2 separate regions of the Homo sapiens genome follow, and region 1 is linked to region 2. Evidence: fine-mapped expression QTL. Tissue or cell type: stomach. Region 2 holds a variant in brackets; the other region holds the start of a gene. All regions are shown on one strand. Distances are between the middles of the regions. Region 1 holds the start of RNASET2 (ribonuclease T2). Region 2 holds the start of LOC124901461 (a long non-coding RNA gene).

Region 1 (9,423 bases), 62 kb before region 2:
CTAAAAACACAAAAATTAGCCGGACGTGGTGGCACACGCCTGTAATCCCAGCTACTCGGGAGGCTAGGGCAGGAGAATTGTTTGAGCCTGGGAGACGGAGGTTGCTGTGAGCCGAGATTGTGCCACTGACTGCACTCCAGCCTGGCTGACAGAGTGAGACTCTGTCTCAAAAAAAAAAAAAGAAAAAGAAAAAGAAGAGAAAGGGCAGGGAAACACCCAGCAGCTGGCCTCACTTTCTCAGCAAATAAGTAATTCAGGATGGAAAGGAGTTTTTAAGGTGAGATTCTTTCAAGTGTGACAAAGCTCTTTAGAGCATGAGAATCCTAAACTGTGTAGTTGTGCCACTGCTCTGCCATTGGAATGGCCAGCACCAGATATGGGCTGTTCCTACCGCCTGGGTTCCAGAGTGAAAAATACCGTGGACCACAGTGGCATCTGACGCATAGCCAGCATGGAATATGGGCAAATGAATGATAAATGATCAACTTCCGTTTAAGTGAGACACTGAGATTTGGGGGCGGTGTATTATTGTAGCATAACCCAGCAAAAGCTGGCATGGAAACAGGAAACCTGGAGCTAATGCCAAGAAGAGGTTGTGTGGTGAAAGTATCTTGGTCTCTTCAGAATTAACAAGGATTTAAGGATGTCTGTTCATAGACATGGCTGTTGCCATCCTGTCCCCCTCCCCTCTCCTAAGGACATGTTTCTATACAAGCCAGCAGCATCTTTTAAACCTCATAGTTTGTACCCTTTTACACTATGTTGTGTGAGTCAATGTAATTCCCACTCTGGCCCCTGCCCACCTGCTTGATGCTGGAGCCCTCTTTGTTTTCGTAAAGCTGGGCGGCTTCCAGACCCAAATCCAGCCTTTACAGCCACTGCCTCTTCCCTACGTAGGGTTCCGTTTAGGATCCTGGTAGGTGGACAAGTAGTGAACAAGACAGATGACAGATGCTCCAGGTTCACATCCAAGTTTTGGGGGGTTGAGAGCTTTTCCATTTGGATGTCCTTCTTTAAGAACAAGAAGGTAAAATTGTGAATACGGAATGAGATATGGGGTCTTGGTGGGGCCCATGCCAGCAAGGGGCCTGAAGCTCCTCATTAGCTTCCGATGTGGGGGTGGGGGAGTAGAAGTGGGCAGTACAGGAGGAAGTGACAAGAATTCTCAGGGGTGGGGAGAACTGTGTCGAAAATAAACAAGGAAGTGCAACAGGAAATGACTGGGTGGCTTCTTCAGGCTGGGTAGGACGCTGCTGAATTTATCTGATAAAAATCTCCTCTCTGTGAGTTGTGGAAAGTGGCTTGCTGCGAGAGACCCCCTTCTTCCCCACATAACATAGGTAAGAGTGATAGAAGTGATGCAGCTGGGCGCTGTCTCCAAAAAAAAAAAAAAAAAAAGGAAAAGTGACGGATGCTCCCCTCACTCCACCCCCTACCCATTACCTAGGACAAAGCCAGACACAGATCCTCCAATTCCCATTCTTCACCTCATCAATGATGAGCCAGTCAATAGAAATAACACACTTGTTAAGCAAACTTGGTGAGGCTCCTCTCTTCCCCCGAGGCTGAGGACTTTTGGCCTCATCTTAGCCTGAGTCAGTCCCCCCTGAGAACAGGCTGGCCACGGGGTCAACCTTCTCTGATCTAATGTCCTATGAAGGCAGGTTCTCATCCCACTTCTCCATTCCCAGTTCATTCTTTCTCTCTCTTTCTTTTTCTCTCTTTCTTCTTTCTTTCATTCATTCTTTTTGTTGTTGTTGTTGACCGAGTCTCACTCTGTCGCCCAGGCTGGAGTGCAGTGGCGCGATCTCGGCTCACTGCAACCTCTGCCTCCTGGGTTCAAGCGATTCTCCTGCCTCAGCCTCCAGAGTAGCTGGGATTGAGGGAAGAGAGAGACCCTCTCATATTGTTTTATATTGTTTTATACTCAGTACCTGTTTTAAGAAAAAAACAAGGAAGTGAAATCAAAGACAGGCAGCCCGGCGCCAGGCCCAAAACCGGACCTGGGCCTGCCTGGCCTAAACCTAGTAGTTAAAAATCAACTCATGACTTAGAGACCGATGTTATTCATAGATTCCAGACATTGTATAGAAGAACATTGTGAAACTCCCTGCCCTGTTCTGTTTCTCTCTGACCACCAGTGCATGCAGCCCGTCACGTACCCCTTGCTTGCTCAAATCAATCACGACCCTTTCATGTGAAATCTTTAATGTTGTGAGCCCTTAAAAGGGACAGAAATTGTGCATTCGGGGAGCTCGGATTTTAAGGCAGTAGCTTGCCGATGCTCCCAGCTGAATAAAGCCCTTCCTTCTATAGCTCGGTGTCTGAGAGGTTTTGTCTGCCGCTCCTCCTGCCACAGGATTACAGTCGCGTGCCACCCCCGCCCAGCAAATTTTTGTATTTTTAGTAGGGACAAAAGGCCCCCAGGCCCCTGCAATAATGGTCCTCATAACACCACTCCTCCCCGAGTCCAGATTTGCTTTATATTTGGCAGTGGTCACAACAGCCCTCCTTGACAAGGGGCTGTTTAAACACACCGGACTGTGATTTAAAGGAAAATGAGGATTCTGGGAAGCACTTTTGTTTTAAGAAAATTATTTTTTTAGCTTAAAAGAAAAGAGAAAAAGAACTGTGGCGTGTGCCTATATTCTTGAGAGGAAGGAATGAAAGGAGCCGGAAAGAAACAAATAAGTCGTTAGGGAAAAGGAGAACGAGAATAACACCATGACCTGTAGGAGGTCCTGGAGGAGCTAAGGAGGTGTCAGCCATTTTCCCCCCCCATCTGTTCCACAGGTGGCATTTTATTGAGCACCGACTGTCCCCCATCCACTGTGCTCAGTGGCAGGGACTCAAGGTGGGCAAAATAGACATGGGCCTTGCCTTGCAGTCTAGTGGGAAAAACAGATTAATCATTTAAATATTTTGTTTCAAAGAATGGTAATGCATGCAGGCAAGGTCCAGGCCTGTGGGAGAGCAGGCTACAGGCCCACCTGCTATTTAGACAGTTACCAGTGGCAGAGGACCCCGAGGAAGGCGCAGTTTACTCGACGTGTAAATAGGAATAGCCTTAACTAGCTGTGGGTGTGCGGACAGGGAAGGGAAAGAGGAGAAACATCTGCAGAGACAATGCCGGGTGCACAGCCCGTGGGCGGGGCCGCGGGTGCAGGGGAACCCGTGCCTCTGAAGGGCTGGGAAGGCCAGGGTGTTGGGGGAGGAGACCGGGCCTATGGGACTGGCCCTGGCTACGCCAAGGTGGGGCTGACATGAAGTCCCCTTCATCCGTGGGGGGTGGCCCGTCCCTCTGGGAGGGGATCCCTCACAAGATGACTTCCCAGGTCGCGCCCCGAGGCGGCTCTTTGCTGCCCCCACAGAGATGACTTCCGGGCTCCTGGGGCCCGCGGGGAGGGGCAGGTGAGGCCCAGGGCTGGGTGAGGGCCAGGCCCTTCTAGGAATGTTGGTGCTCCCAGCACCTAGCACCGGGAGACTGGAGAGGTTTCCAGGAGAGTGACCCGAGTAGGTCCCCTCCTAATTCTGGAGCCGTCCCTCGGGCTGCGCAGTGGAGCGCCGAGGTGGCGGGAGGCTGCGGGGAGCCTGGGCGGCCAAGCACCATCTGCAGTCAGGAGCTCCCGGGCAGCTTGCAGGGCGCAGTTTTTGAAAGCGGGTGCTGCGTGCGGACCGCGGGCCTGCAGGGTGCGCGGGTCGGGCTGGGGGCTGTCCCTGGAGAGTAGAGTGGCCCTGGGGCCCGCACGCCCACTTGCTGGCGGGGGATGGCGCAGACACGGGCGGTCCCCCCGAGGGCGGTCCTCACGGGTGGTCTAGGTTAGCTCGGACCCGGGAGTGTGGGAGTGGCGCAGAGCTGCGGGAAAAGGCGCGGGGCGCCTGCGTGGCGAAGGAACACAGCCGCCTGACACGCCCTCAAGGCCCGCGGAGCTGCTCCTGCCTCGGCCTCTCTGAGCCAACCACGGGGCGGGGCGTGAACGCCGGGCGGGGACGTGCCGTTCTGGGGGGCGTGTCCACCGGCGGGGGCGTGCCGTCCTGGGGGCGTGGCTCTCTGCTCCGGTGCAGGCCCGCAGGGCGCCCTGGGCTGGGAGCAACGCGACTGACCGTGGTCGTGGGCGGACGGCGGCTGCAGCGTGGAGGAGCTGGGGTCGCTGTGGGTCGCGAAGCAGAGCCCGGGACGTGCGCGCTTGGTGCACGATCCTGAAGGGGAGCTCCGAGGGGCCCGGGTCGCCAGGGCTGCTGCGGCCATTCCCGGAGCCCGGCGCGGGGCCCGCGAGATACTGGTTTAGGCCGTCCCAGGGCTCCGGGCGCACCCGGTGGCCGCTGCTGCAGCGGAGGGAGCGCGGCGGCGCGGGGGCTCGGAGACAGCGTTTCTCCCGGAAGTCTTCCTCGGGCAGCAGGTGGGAAGTGGGAGCCGGAGCGGCAGCTGGCAGCGTTCTCTCCGCAGGTCGGCACCATGCGCCCTGCAGCCCTGCGCGGGGCCCTGCTGGGCTGCCTCTGCCTGGCGTTGCTTTGCCTGGGCGGTGCGGACAAGCGCCTGCGGTGAGTTACCTTGCGAGGTAAAGTGGGGAGCGTGGGAGCCGGGCCCTAGAGCTTTCCACTGGGTGAAGGCTGCAGCTCTCGGGGTCGGCGGTCGCTGAGCCCCGGGCAGCGACTGGGGAGGGCGGGGGGAGCCGAGCACGCTCCGGGGTGACCCCTGGGAAGAAGTTGGGAAGTTGAGCACGCCTCGGGGTGACCCCTGGAGGGAGTGGGTTGGGGGGAGCCCTTAGCACACTCAGAAGTGACCTCTGGGAAGGAGTGCGATGAGGGGAGTCCTGAGCACGCCCCGGGGTGACCTCTGGGAAGGAGTGGGTTGGGGGGAGCCCTGGGCACGCTCTGGGGTGACTCCTGGGAAGAAGTGGGTTGGGGAGCCCTGAACACTCCCCGGGGTGACCCCTGGGAAGGAGTAGGGGGTAGGGTGAGGTCCTGGGTACACTCCAGCCTGGAGCTGGACTGGAAACTCATCCCACAGACTGCTCCCAGCCTAGGACGCGACAAAGCAGGTGGCAGGCTTGGTGGAGCACTGTTCCTGCACTCGAAGTTCTCTCAGAGGTCGAAGAAGTCGTGGAGGGGACACTTAATTTCAGCTTTCACTGCGGCGGGTGGTGAAACGACGGTTCTTCCTCTTTTTGAGTATCCTGTTCTGAATCCCTTCCCTTGGCTCGCCCTCCGCGTGTGTGTGTGTGTGCGCGTGTGTGTGTGCGCGTGTGTGTGTGTGCGTGTGCGTTTGTGTGTGCGTGTGTGTGTGCGTGCGTGTGCGTGTGCGTGCGTGCGTGTGTGTGCGTGTGTGTCGTGTGTGCGCGTCTGTGCGTGTGTGTCGTGTGTGCGCGTGTGTGTGTGTGCGTGTGTGCGTGTGTGTGCGTGCGTGCGTGTGTGCGCGTGTGTGCGTGCGTGTGTGCGTGCGTGTGTGCGTGTGTGTGTGTGGCAGCCGCCCAAATTAATTAGGGGTAAACAGGCGGTGCTGCAAAGAACTCCAACTTTAATTCTGTGGAAGATACCAATATTTGAATACCATATTATTTCTTTCTATTTGGGTAATGATCGGGTTAATAGGATTTCTTACTTACATAGTAGGTGTGGAAAAGGTGGGTTTTACTTATTTATTTTTTTTTAGACAGTCTTACTCTGTCACTCAGGCTGGAGTACAGTGGCGTGACCTCAGCTCACTGCAACCTCCACCTCCCGGGTTCAAGCGATTCTCCTGCCTCAGCCTCTGAGTAGGTGGGATTACAGATGCACACCACCACGCCTGGCTAATTTTTGTATTTTTAATAGCCAGGCTGGTCTCGAACTTCTGACCTCAGGTGATCCGCCCGCCTCGGCCTCCCAAAGTGCTGGGATTACAGGCGTGAGCCACTGCACCCGGCCAGGGTTTTACTTTTTAAACACCTTAGGTATATATTTTTAATCATGTACATTAAAATGTAGCATTATATTTCAGTGTTCCGGAAAGTGTATTTTCTGAAAAAGAGCTACATTTATGTCCTTATTTATTGGCCATGAGGTTCAGAGCCTCTCACTGGGGAAGTCTGTGGCATGCTGGCCCTTGCTGGCTGAGTGGAAACTGCTAGTTCACACCCAGGTGTGGGACCTTTGAGCTCTCTATGCCCCAGTTTCCTCATCTGTAAAGTAGAAATAGTAACAGTCAGCCTCACAGAGTTGGCTTCAGGAGAAATCAGTTAAGGTACAGAATGTAACTTGGAATGATGTCTGGCTGGAAGTAAACATTAGCATAAAACAGGCTGTCATATGTGGATCCCCCACCCCAGCCCATAATTCATGCAACTGATATGATCGGACAAACTTGAGCAGGCAAGATTTGCGAGAACATGGTTGATTCAGACCACGAGGGCTTCATAGGTCAGCGGGCATTTTCCCAAGTTCTAACTGGTTTTGAGACCTTGGTGATTTTTCTTTCTTCTTTGACTTTCTTTAGCTTCTCCATTACTTTCTCCGTGAATAGGGGAGGGGGGCATCTGTGTGGGAGGGGGTCTCCTGCAGTCACATCACTCTGCCTGGTTTTAGATGGAGAGTTTGTTACAAACGTCTGAGTCTTGGTAGTTTTGTTGTAAGCATATTGATAGTCTCATCTTCCTGGGTGTTGCTAAGCTTTCCAGCCTCAGGTTCCGACTATGTAAAATAAGGTTTTTCACCCAAGGGTAAAAAATGCTTTACCAGCTCCAATTCTCACCCTGCAGCTCATCCTTTTTTTTTTTTTTTGAGACAGGGTCTGGCTGTGTAGCCCAGGTTGGAGTGCAGTGATGTGATCTGGGCTCACTGCATCTTCCACCTCCTGGGCTTAAGCTATCCTCTTGCCTCAGCGCCTTCCAAGTAGCTGGGACTACAGGTTCATGCCACCACACCTGGCTAATTTTTGTAGAGACAGGGTTTCACCATGTTGCCCAGGCTGGTCTTGAACTCCTGAGCTCAAGCAATCCTCCTGCCTCTGCCTCCCAAAGTGCTGGGATTATAGGTGTGAGCCACCACGCTTGAACCCTTTTTTCCTTTTATACTGAGAGCTTGCATAATTAGTTCCAATGTACAACTAAGTTTTCATACCATCTTAACTGTAAATTCTATACAAATTCAACAGGACTCAATTATTTACAAAAGCTAATGTGTGACAACTTGATCTTCTTACTTGGAATCTTCCCTTCTAAAATTTGATTTATCCTGAAGTGTCTGCTTGACTTATATCCTGTGTTGCTGCTGGCTTTTTCCATGTGCATTTTTTGCAAGCTGCTCTTTTTACTTCAGTCTCGTTAAGTCTTGCAGTTCTGGCTAGAGGCCTACTGCCATGAATAAGCTGCCGCTCCACAGTGGCTTCTTTGAAGTCTTAGAGTCAGATGAGTTTCACGGTGTTCAGGTTTGTGATCCAGTGTGGCCCCAGGTTCTGGGTAACACGTGTGATGCAGTGCTGTGTGCATACCATGTCGTGAATAACATTCATGATGCAGTGCACATACCGTGTTCAAGTTAACAGTCCTGGTGGCATCTGAAGTAGCACCCTAAAATCAAATGACACAAATTCTGCAGAGAAGCAAGTGAAGTCTAAAAACTGAGTTGGGGTAGTAACGATAAATAGCGTTATGCTAGTTCAGGTTATGTTTTGTTGCCAAATGAATTACAAAAAACTACCAGGTTTCAGGCTTTTATGGGTTTCACGAATGCAGGGGAGGGATCGTGGGTCTGCATTTCTCTTGAGCATCCTTAGGAGAAAGGTGCTTCGTGGCTCAGTGGCTTCCCTTCAGTGAGGCCCTCCCTGGCTGCACTCCTAGCTTGCCCTGCCTCCGCTTCCCCTCCTCTCCCCTCCTCCCCTTATCCTATTCATGTTCTCCGCCACTCAGCACTGGACGCCACCACACGTGCCTTCTTAGTGTAGGGGTGTACCGCCTTCCTCACGGGAGTGTGTGCAGCAGCAGGGCAGGCAGTGTTCCTCCTCCCACAGCACTCAGTGCTGAATGAATGATTGAAGGGATGGATGGGTGGATGAATTTTTTCTGTAACTTTAAAAAAAGTTCTTGAAAAATAAGTTTCTTATGTTTTAACAGTGACAACCATGAGTGGAAAAAACTAATTATGGTTCAGCACTGGCCTGAGACAGTATGCGAGGTGAGTGTTTCTGCCTTGACGGGCCCTGGGGCCTGGGGAGCCCTGTGAAGAGGGGTTTGTGTGCACGTGCCCGTCCAGGGCACCCACGCTGCTGGTGCGGGAGGTAGGCATCGCTCTGGCGGGTGGGCGGTGTCTCCTGCAGAGACTGCCTCCAGGAGGGCTGTGTGTGAGCTTCCCAGGGCTGCTGTAACAAAAGTGCCACAAGCTGGGTGGCTGAGAGCCTCAGGAATTTATTCTCACGGTCCTGGAAGGGGAAGTTTCAACCTAGGGGTCAGAAGGGTTGGTTCCTCCTGGAAGGCTCTGAGAGAGTTTGTTCTGTTTCTCTGCTAGCTTCTAGTAAGGACCCGTGGTCCTCTGCGTTCCTGGGCTGACCCATCACCCCAATCTCTGCCTTCTCCTTCACGGTGTGTTCTCCACTTTGTGTCTCTCTGTCTCTTCTGATGAGGACACCAGTAATTGGATTTAGGGCCCACCCTAATCTGGTATCACCTTTTCTTGATGACATCTGCAAAGACCCTGTGTCCATGTAGGGTCATGTTCACAGATGGGAGGAGGGGTTAGGACAGGGATATATCTTCTGGGAGGACACGGTTCAACCCACAGCAAGCCTCAGTTTGTCTCCTCCCTCTGTGGGCGGCAAGCCACCCAGGTGCCAAGGCAAGAGACCGAGGGCATAAGCTGTTCCAGTATAATAAAGAAAATATATAAAATGAGAACAGTTATACTAGAAATAGATTATAGATATGATGATATATGAATATTATTAATCATCAGTTTGTAGCATTGCTCTTTATTCCAATATTATAATAATCCTTGCTCTACAATTACAGCCTAGGAAAAACCAGGCCATACAGAGATAGGAGCTGAAGGGGCACGGTGAGAAGTGACCAGAAGACAAGTGTGAGCCTCTGTCACGCCCGGACAGGGCCACTAGAGGGCTCTTTGGTCTAGTGGTAACACCAGTGCCTGGGAAGGCAACCATTACTTAGCTGACCTCGGTCTAGTGGTAGCGTCAGTGCCTAGGGAAGGCACCCGTTACTCAGCAGACTGGGAAAGGGAGTTAGAGCAGACTCTGCTTCACCATACCTCTTGTGGATAGGCCTCATATCAGTCAGGCCTGCCCACAGCCATCTGGAGGCCTAACCATCTCCCCGTGATGCTGTGCTTCAGCAGTCACACTGCTGTTTCACTTTCATGTTCCACCCAGTACACCTGGCTCTGCCTTCTAGATAGCAGTAGCAGAATTAGTGAAAGTACTAAAAGTCTTTGAAA
Region 2 (9,363 bases):
GTTCTCCCCGCTGTGTGCGTTCACCCCGCGTTCTCCCAGCTCTGTGAGTTCACCCAACTTTCTCCTTACTTTGTGCATTCACCCGGCATTCTCCCGACTGTGTGCGTTCACCCGGCGTTCTCCTCTCTGTGTGCGTTCTCCTGGCGTTCTCCCACCTGTGTGCGTTCACCCGGCGTTCTCCCCTCCATGTGCGTTCACCTGGCGTTCTCCCCTCTGTGTGTTCACATGGCGTTCTCCCCGTTGTGTGTGTTCCCGTGGCATTGTTCCTGTGTGTGTTCACCTGGCATTCTGCCCCAAGTGTGTTCAAATTTCTCTGTTCTCATTAGGACACCAATCATTGGCTTAGGGCCCACCCATGTGCAGTATTCCTTTATCTTGCTAAATCTGAAAGATCCTATTTCCAAATAAGGTAACATGTACAGGTAGGGCGTGGTCCTGAGTTTGGGTGTTAGAGCACTTACTCAATGCCAGTGTTTGTCGTTCCTGTCTGTGTTTGGGGGTATCTGAGTGCTCACATCACATTTTATCTCCTACCAGTGAGCCTCACAAGCCCAAGGCTTTAAAAAGACAGAGGCATATTGCCCTAACGATGCTTTAACTCTGCTTCAATTGCCCATTTTTTCCCTCCAAGCAGAGGCCATCCTTTTAGAAGTAAATGAGCGATAATGATGCAAATGGAAGAATGTTGTCGATATTGTGTTTTCTTTTCTTACACAGCAGGTAGACCTTCAGCAGACACTTTTTTATTTTATTTATTTATTTATTTTGCAGTTGCAAGATCTAATAGTGAAAACAGAGCTCCCATACAAAGGGAGGGGACCCAAAGAGGGTAGCATTTGCTAGCTCAAATGCCTGGGTTCATGTCCTGATCATTGTCCCTCCTGCTGTGCTCTCAGGCAATAGATGATTGGCTATTTCTTTACCTCATGTTGTTGCATAATTAGCATTTTAGTGAGCTCTCTTTACTATCTGATTGGTCGGATGTGAGCTAAGTTGCAGGCCCCGTGTTTAAAGGTGGAAGCCATCACCTTCCCAGCTAGGCTTAGGGATTCTTAGTCAGCCTAGAAAATCCAGCTAGTCCTGTCTCTCAGTACCCCCTCTCAACAGGAAAACCCAAGTGCTGCTGGGGAGGTTGGCCGACAACCGCTCTAACTGCTTCCTGCTGAATTGGGGCATAGTAGGGATGGTGCAGTTGAGATTTCCTCGGGAGGGGTGCCTTCAATGTCATTAACATCAGAGCATGGGCTAGCAGGCCGGTCCAGGGGTCCACGGTAGATCTTAGTCATGGACTGCATCTGGGGCACCATTTGAAGAACGATTTGTAGTTTTACAGCTTTGATTCTGGAAGAGACAAACTTAACAAGGAGGTTAAAGATACAGGGATTGAAATGAATGGCCTGCAGTGCAGGGGATTATTTCTTTGGCACAGTTTACAGGCCTTGACTATCTGCTTGATAGTTTTGACAAGGCCTGGTCCAGTAAATAATGATTTGGCCACCTGATGGGTGCTATTAATGCCTAAGTGAAAGGTTTGGTGAAGGGTTTTAAGTAATTTCATTGGTTAGCTGCAGGCAAAAGTATTTTTCCTTCTTCGGTGGCTAGCCATGCTGAGGGGAGGAAACTATGTCCTCGTGAGGCTCCCCATTCTATTTCTTCTTCTGAGTACTGGGGCTTGGTTTCCTGGAGTGGATTACCCCATACTAGGGGTCCTTCTATAAGCATTTCTAATGGAGTGTCCGGCCTTGTGGCTCTTTTGGCTTTAATATCCGCTTGGTGGTTCCCTTCTATTTCCTTTTCCTTTCCTTTCTGATGACCCCAGCAGTGTAAGACTGCCACCTCTTTAGGTTTCTATACAGCCAATAATAATCTCCTAATGGCTTCCTGATGTTTGAAAGGTGTTTCCTCGGAAGTTAGGAATTCCCTTTCTTTCCATAGTGCTGTGTGGGCATGGAGGACTAGGTAAGCATACTTAGAGTCTGTATATATATTTACCCTTTTTCCTTCTCCCAATTCTAGTGCCCGAGTGAGGGCTATTAGTTCTGCCAGCTGAGCACTAGTTCCTGGAGTGAGGGGATTACTTTCAAGTATTCTGTTATCACTGACCACCGCATAGCCCACTTTTCGAAGTCCTTTTTCTACAAGGGAACTTCCATCAGTATACAAGTTGAGGTTGGGATCAGTCAAGGGAACCTCTAAAAGGTCCCCTCGAGCAGCACAGGTTTGAGGAATTACTTGTTGACAGTTATGTTCTATCTTTTCTTCATTGTCTGGAAGAAATGTGGCTGGGTTAACAGTACTGGCCCTTCAAGTAATAGAGCCTGATAGTTAAGTAAACAGTTGTCTGACAGCCACAAGTCTTCTTTAGCAGTGAGTATGTCATTCACGTCATGAGATGTCCATACAGTAAGATCTCTTCCCTGTATTATTTTAACTGCTTCAGACACTAATACTGCTACTGCCGCCACTACCCATAAACAATGAGGCCAACCCTTTGCCACTACATCAATTTCCTTATTCAGGTATGCCATGGGTTGCAAGCTCATCCCTCGGACCTGTGTAAGGACTCCTAGAGCGATTCCTGTTTTTTCTGTGGCATATAAAGAAAAATCTTGCCCTGTTGGCAAGCTGAACACTGGGGCTTGGGTTAGGGCCTTCTTTAGGGCCTGGAAAGCCACTTCTGTTTAGGTGTCCATCTTACTAAATAGGTATTGGCTTTCTGAGTTTCCTTAATTAGTGTATATAATGGTCTGGCTATTTTGCTGTACCTGGGAATCTGTTTTCGGCAGAAACCTGTTATGCCAAGGAACCCTCTTAGTTGCTTTAGGGTTTTGGGATGAGGATAAGCCAGTATAGGCTGGATACGTTCCTCACTGAGGGCCCTGGTGCCTTTGGATAATTTTAGCCCTCAGTATCTAATCTGCTGTGAGCAGAGCCGAGCCTTTGGTTTGGAAACCTTGTAGCCACAGGTAGTGAGGAAATTTAAGAGTTCTTGGGTGGCTTGATGGCACAAGGTTTCTGAACGGGCGACTAAAAGTAAATCATCCATGTACTGAAGGACAAGAGTGTCCAGGTATGAGAATTGGCTCAAGTCTTGGGCTAATGCCTGGCCAAATAGATGGGGGCTATCCCTGAACCCTTGGGGTAAAACAGTCCAGGTGAGTTGACAGGTTGTGTTTGAAGGATCTTCAAAGGCAAACAAGAATTGAGAGTCAGGATGTACAGGGATGCAGAAAAAGGCATTCTTAAGGTCCAGGACTGTAAACCACTCTGCTTCCTCTGGTATTTGGGAAAGCAGAGTATAAGGGTTAGGTACAGCTGGGTATAGAGGGACAATGGCCTCATTGATAATCCTGAGCTCTTGTGCAAACCTCCACTGTCTGTTGGGTTTCTCTACTCCTAAAATTGGAGTATTGCAGGGGCTATTGCATGGTTTTACTAGGCCTTGGGCTTTTAGGTCCTTAACAATCTTTTGGAGTCCTTGTTGGGCCTCAGGTCTAAGGGAGTACTGCCTTTGGTAGGGAAAGGAGGCGGAATCCTTTAGTTTAACTAGAACAGGATGGGCATTCTTTGCTCGTCCATATTGTCCTTCTGTTGCCCAGACTTCAGGATTAATTCCTTCCTCAAGCAGGGACAACAAATGGGTGTTCCTTCTCCTATGTTCAGGTGTATAATGGCCCCTGCTTTTGCTAGAATGTCTTTCCCTAACAAGGGAGTGGAGCTTTCAGGCATAATTGGAAAAGCATGAGAAAAGAGTAAAGTTCCCCAGGCACAACTTAGTGGCTGGGAGAAGTATCTAATGACTGGCTGTCCTAGGACCCCTCGGAGAGTGACAGATCTGGAGGACAGTTGTCCGGGACAGGAGAGTAAGACTGAGAAGGCCGCGCCAGTGTCCAGGAGACAGTTAACCTCCTGGCCCTCAATGGTCAAGCATACCCGAGGCTCTGTGAGGGTAATGGCATGGGCTGGTGCTTGCCCCGGTACCCTCAGTCCTGCTGCTGGATCATCTGGTTAGTGGCTTCTGACTCAGAGGACCTTCATCCCCTGGGGCAGTGGGCCTTCTAGTGATTCCCTTGACATAATGGTGGACGAGGAGGCAGCTTATTTCTACTTGGATGATCTTTTTTAACGTGTGCTTGTAGACCGCACTGGAAGCAAGCCCTGTTAGGCATTCGATTTTCCCAGCTTTTCCTTTTCCAGAGCCTCCAAAGTCCACTTGCCTGAGGGCCATGACTAAAGCAGTGGCCTTTTTAAATCCCGTTTGTCCTGTTCCGCCTGCTCCTCCTGATCTCTATTATAAAAAACCAAGGTTGCCAAGTTCAATAGGGTTTCTAAGTTTTGCTCTGGGCCTAAGGCGGACTTTTGAAGTTTTTTTCTAATGTCTGCAGCTGACTGAGTGATAAACTTATC[C/T]TTTAAGATTAGTTGGCCTTCAATAGAGTCAGGTGACAGAGAGGTATGCTTCCTCAATGCCTCCCTTAGTCTCTCCAGAAAAGCAGTAGGATTTTCTTCCTTTCCCTGTGTTATAGTGGACATCATTGAAAAATTTGTAGGCTTCTTCCTGGTTTTCCTTAGTCCTTCCAGCACACAAGTTAGCAAATGTCTGCAGCACCAATCTCCATGTTCTGATTCTGCGTCCCAGTGAGGGTCTACACTGGGAACTGCCTGCTGGCCTGTGGGGAATCATTCTCTTTCCTCTGTTATCATCCTATCATTGACCTGACTGAGATACCAGAGATCGCCAAACTCTCAGGCTGCAGTTATGGTGGCACTTCTCTCATTTGGGGTTAACGTCTGATTTAGCAGTAACATTATATCTCTCCATATCAGATCGAAGGATTGTCCTAACCCCTGTAAAACATCAATATAGCCATCAGGGTTATCTGAGGATTTACCTAGGTCTATTTTAATTTGCTTTAAGTCCGAGAGAGAAAAAGGTACATGCACTCTGGCTGGGATGAATTCTCCTCCTCTCACTGCTTGGAGGGGGCATAATCGGGGAATATTGGCACCTTTGATTCATTGTTTACCCCTTTGTCTATCTCCTTTTGGACCGTTTGGGTTCAAGGGGGGTCCTTATTAGTTGGGGGAGGAGTTGGGGGGATGGTGGGGTAGGGAGGTAGACTCTGAAGGCTTCTTGTAGGGCATAAATCACACTTTTTACATAATTGCGAGTTGTCTCTTAATGAAAAGAAAGTTTGTACATATGGCACTTCACTCCAGTTGCCTTCTTTTTTACAAAAGAGTTCTAGCTGTAAGATGGTGTTATAATTTATACTTCCCTCCAGAGGCCAGGTTTCTCCCCCTTGAAGAGGATATCGTGGCCAGGCGGTACTGCAGAAGAAAATGAGTCATTTCTTTCTTAGCATCTGAGGGTCAAATTGGTCCCAATTCTCCAGAATACATCTTAGGGGCATTTTTGCCTTGGGCGGAACATTTCCTATCTGAAAAAAGAACTGAGGGATGCCAGCACCCCTAGTCATTTTCCGATGTGCATTAATCTTAGAGTGTCCGCTGTGGTCCTAATGCTTATTCCTTTCCAGGGTGCGTAACCACCCATGGACCTCGGCTTATCGGATTAGTTATGCTCACCGAAGTAGCAGTCTTGCACCCTTTTCCTGCCTTTCTTGACCACAAAGAAAGGGGTCCAGGCTGCTGGATTCTAGTGGTCCTTTACCAGCGTACCCAACATTGCCTTTGTGCTCAGGGGTGAGTCCTAGAGCTGGGCTGGGTTCCTGAGTATTTCATAACAACCCAGCTTCCCCATCAAGATGCATTCCCATAAACAACAGTTCTTATGCAAATTCATTTCAGAGAGGGTGTAGGTAACCTTTTGAGTCAGGATTGAGATAGTCTTTTTTGATTCTGTGAGTACTTTAAGGCTTGGCTGAGTGCAAACGGCTCGCACGTTTGAGGAGACCAATTATTAAGCAATTTTTCTAACTCTGCTTCCACAAGAGTCTCCCTACCAATTACTGAATGCCCATTGTGGTTTTTTCCTCAGTCACCAGGGAAGAACCATCTACTGTCCTGTCCTGAAGGGAGTTCCTCCTAGATCTGGTCGGACCTTTGTATGGTAATTAAGATTTAAATCCTTTGTTGGGAAATCTGCTGGGTTAATGGGATTATCAGTGGTTGGTGTTAAATTACCTTTTTCTAACAGAAAAGCCGCATGCTTTAAGATTTTTGAGTTAGTAAGCTACCTTTTTGCTTTTTTGACTTAGAATAATTCTGAACTGATTAGGTGTGCTCACAATGAGGTTTCCTCTAAACGTCACTTTTCTACTTTCTTCTGTTAGCAAAGCAGTTGCTGCTACAGACTGTATGCATTTGGGCCATCTGCGGGTCACTGAGTTGAGGAATTTTGATGGGAAGGCTCCTGGTTGTTAGCGGTCTCAGTGTTTTCAGGCTACGCCCTTGTTTACACTAACAACAAGGTAGTATTGGAGTGTTATAGGGTCATGGAGAAGACCTTCAATTATCAATTACAGGTTTTAAATTTACCCTGGCTTTTAAAGGAATAGGGCACACTGTTTTTTACTATTTCTATCTTTCTCTGTTTTTTTCTCTTTGACTCCCTCTTTCTCTCTCTCTCTCCTCCATCTCTCTCTCTCTCTCCCTCCTCTGTCTCTCTCTCTCCTCCATCTCTCGCCTTCTCTTAGCCATTACAAATTTGGGGCCCTGGCAAGGGTGGTGGGGAACGGGTCCAACATAACTGCCCATGTCGAGAGCTGTATACTTAAATCGGGTGGGACACCAGGGATAACACTTCCTGGGTTTGTAGCCTAGATGCCTAAGAACACAGCGTAGAGCTTCCTTAGATCCCTTTGGAGTTACAACTTGCCAGAGGAAATGAAAGTCTGAACCATTAGTACCTAGGAGGCAGGGATCAGAGGAAGAAGATTCAGAGGTAAGGAGAATTTTGGGGCTACACTTTCAAGAACGTCGTGGTTGGGACCCAGGATGTATGGGTCAGAAGGAAAGGTAGGGGTGCATGCATGGGCAACTGTTGAGGAGAGACTTCTGGCTGCACCATGATCTCAACTGGCTAATGCCGGGAGTTCGGGATGACAGCTTTCTGCCTCTAGTTGGCCCCTGGCTTCCCCAAGAAAATTGAAAGTGGAAGCTGGCTCCAGGCAGACCAATGTCCCCAACCCAGAAGGGTTGGGGGTTGTTAGAAAGCCCTTCCCCAGATAGCCTCACACCTGAGTCCTAAGTCTGGACATAGGCATGGCATGTCCTATGTCCTAGGCTATATGCCTAGGACATAGGCATATAGCATGGTTAAAAAGCCATGCTAATGGTTTTTAACTGGCCGACAGGTGCCCGGTATTTTCCTCCAATTCTAAGGAAGGATAGGACAGAATAGCAAGTGAAAGTGGTCCAGTATTACCACTTTGGAGGTCCCTTCATGGTCACCAAAATGTTACCAGGGGGTCCTTGCTCACAGAGCTCCCAAGGTGGTGGCTGGCTGCTTCCAAAATGGCGGTGGGCTGCTTCCAAGATGGTTGCAAGCCTCGTGTTCTCTGACCTGGGGTTCTTGGTCTCACGGATTCCAAGGAATGGAATCTTGGGCCATGTGGTGAGTGTTATAGCTCTATTAGAAGCCGTGGGTCACAGAAGAGAACTGTGGAACCCAGTGACTAGTGTTCAGCTTGATTAGGACGAACCCGGACACTTAGCAGTGCAGGAACAATGGCAAGCCTTTTTAGCCTGATCAGGAGCGGCAATGGGCACCTCGCTGGATCAGGAGCACAGCGGACACCCTGCAGGATCCGGAGGGATGGAAGTCAGCGGCGGGTCTGCGACAGCAGTAGTGGACAGCGAGTGAAAGCTCAGCTCAAGCCGACACAAACATAGACCAGAAGAGAGTGCAGTTGCAAGATTTAATACAGTGAAAACAGAGCTCCCATACAAAGGGAGGGGACTCAAAGAGGGTAGCCCTTTTTTTTTTATTTTTAATTTTAGGACTAATTCTTTTCCTGGAGGGTGTTTGTTGGCAAGTAGAACATAGGGATCTCAGTTAAATTTATTCTTTTTTTTATACTTTAAGTTCTAGGGTACATGTGCACAACGTGCAGGTTTGTTACATATGTATACATGTGCCATGTTGATGTGCTGCACCCATTAACTCGTCATTTACATTAGGTATATCTCCTAATGCTATCCCTCCCCCCTCCCCCCACCCCACGACAGGCCCTGGTGTGTGATGTTCCCCACTGTGTGTCCAAATGTTCTCATTACTCCATTCCCACCTATGAGTGAGAACATGCGGTGTTTGGTTTTCTGTCCTTGTGATAGTTTGCTCAGAATGATGGTTTCCAGCTTCATCCATGTCCCTCAGAGGACATGAACTCATCCTTTTTTATGGCTGCATAGTATTCCATGGTGTATATGTGCCACATTTTCTTAATCCAGTCTGTCATTGATGGGCATTTGGGTTGGTTCCAAGTCTTTGCTATTGTGAATAGTGTCGCAATAAACATACGTGTGCATGTGTCTTTATAGCAGCATGCTATATAATCCTTATTATGTATACCCAGTATATAACCAGTGTATACCCAGTAATGGGATGGCTGGGTCAAATGGTATTTCTAGTTCTAGATCCTTGAGGAATCGCCACACTGACTTCCACAATGGTTGAACTAGTTTACAGTCCCACCAACAGTGTAAAAGTGTTCCTATTTCTCCACATCCTCTCCAGCATCTGTTGTTCCCTGACTTTTTAATGATTGCCATTCTAACTGATTTGAGATGGTATCTCATTGTGGTTTTGATTTGCATTTCTCTGATGGCCAGTGATGATGAGCATTTTTTCATGTGTCTGTTGCCTGCATAAATGTCTTCTTTTGAGAAGTGTCTGTTCATATCCTTCGCCCATTTTTTGATGGGATTGTTCGATTTTTTTCTTGTAAATTTGTTTATGTTCTTTGTAGATTCTGGATAATTAGCCCTTTGTCAGATGCGTAGATTGTAAAAATTTTCTCCCATTCTGTAGGTTGCCTATTCACTCTGATGGTAGTTTCTTTTGCTGTGCAGAAGCTCTTTAGTTTAATTAGATCCCATTTGTCAATTCTGGCTTTTGTTGCCATTGCTTTTGGTGTCTTAGTCATGAAGTCCTTGCCCATGCCTATGTCCTGAATGGTATTGCCTAGGTTTTCTTCTAGGGTTTTTATGGTTTTTAGGTCTAACATTTAAGTCTTTAATCCATCTTGAATTAATTTTTGTATAAGGTGTAAGGAAGGGATCCAGTTTCAGCTTTCTACATATGGCTAACCAGTTTTCCCAGCACCATTTATTAAATAGGGAATCCTTTCCCCATTTCTTGTTTTTGTCAGGTTTGTCAAAGATCAGATGGTTGTAGATGTG

The links. PIP is the estimated chance that this variant, and not a neighbour inherited with it, causes the effect.
Region 1: RNASET2 starts here. The variant in region 2 is fine-mapped to the expression of RNASET2 in stomach (GTEx, PIP above 0.99).

What each region holds. Positions count from the first base shown.
Region 1 is chr6:166,951,216-166,960,638 of GRCh38, reverse strand. It overlaps RNASET2 (ribonuclease T2), which reads left to right and starts at 4,089. Exons shown (of 9, transcript NM_003730.6): 1 at 4,089-4,542; 2 at 8,091-8,151. The coding sequence starts at 4,457. RefSeq lists a cis regulatory region at 1,053-1,339, enhancers at 2,020-2,139, 9,039-9,423, 9,198-9,423 and silencers at 3,104-3,153, 3,424-3,523, 3,564-4,323.
Region 2 is chr6:166,889,657-166,899,019 of GRCh38, reverse strand. It overlaps LOC124901461 (a long non-coding RNA gene), which reads left to right and starts at 1,948. Exons shown (of 2, transcript XR_007059867.1): 1 at 1,948-6,070. The variant C/T (reference allele first, on the strand shown) is at 4,408.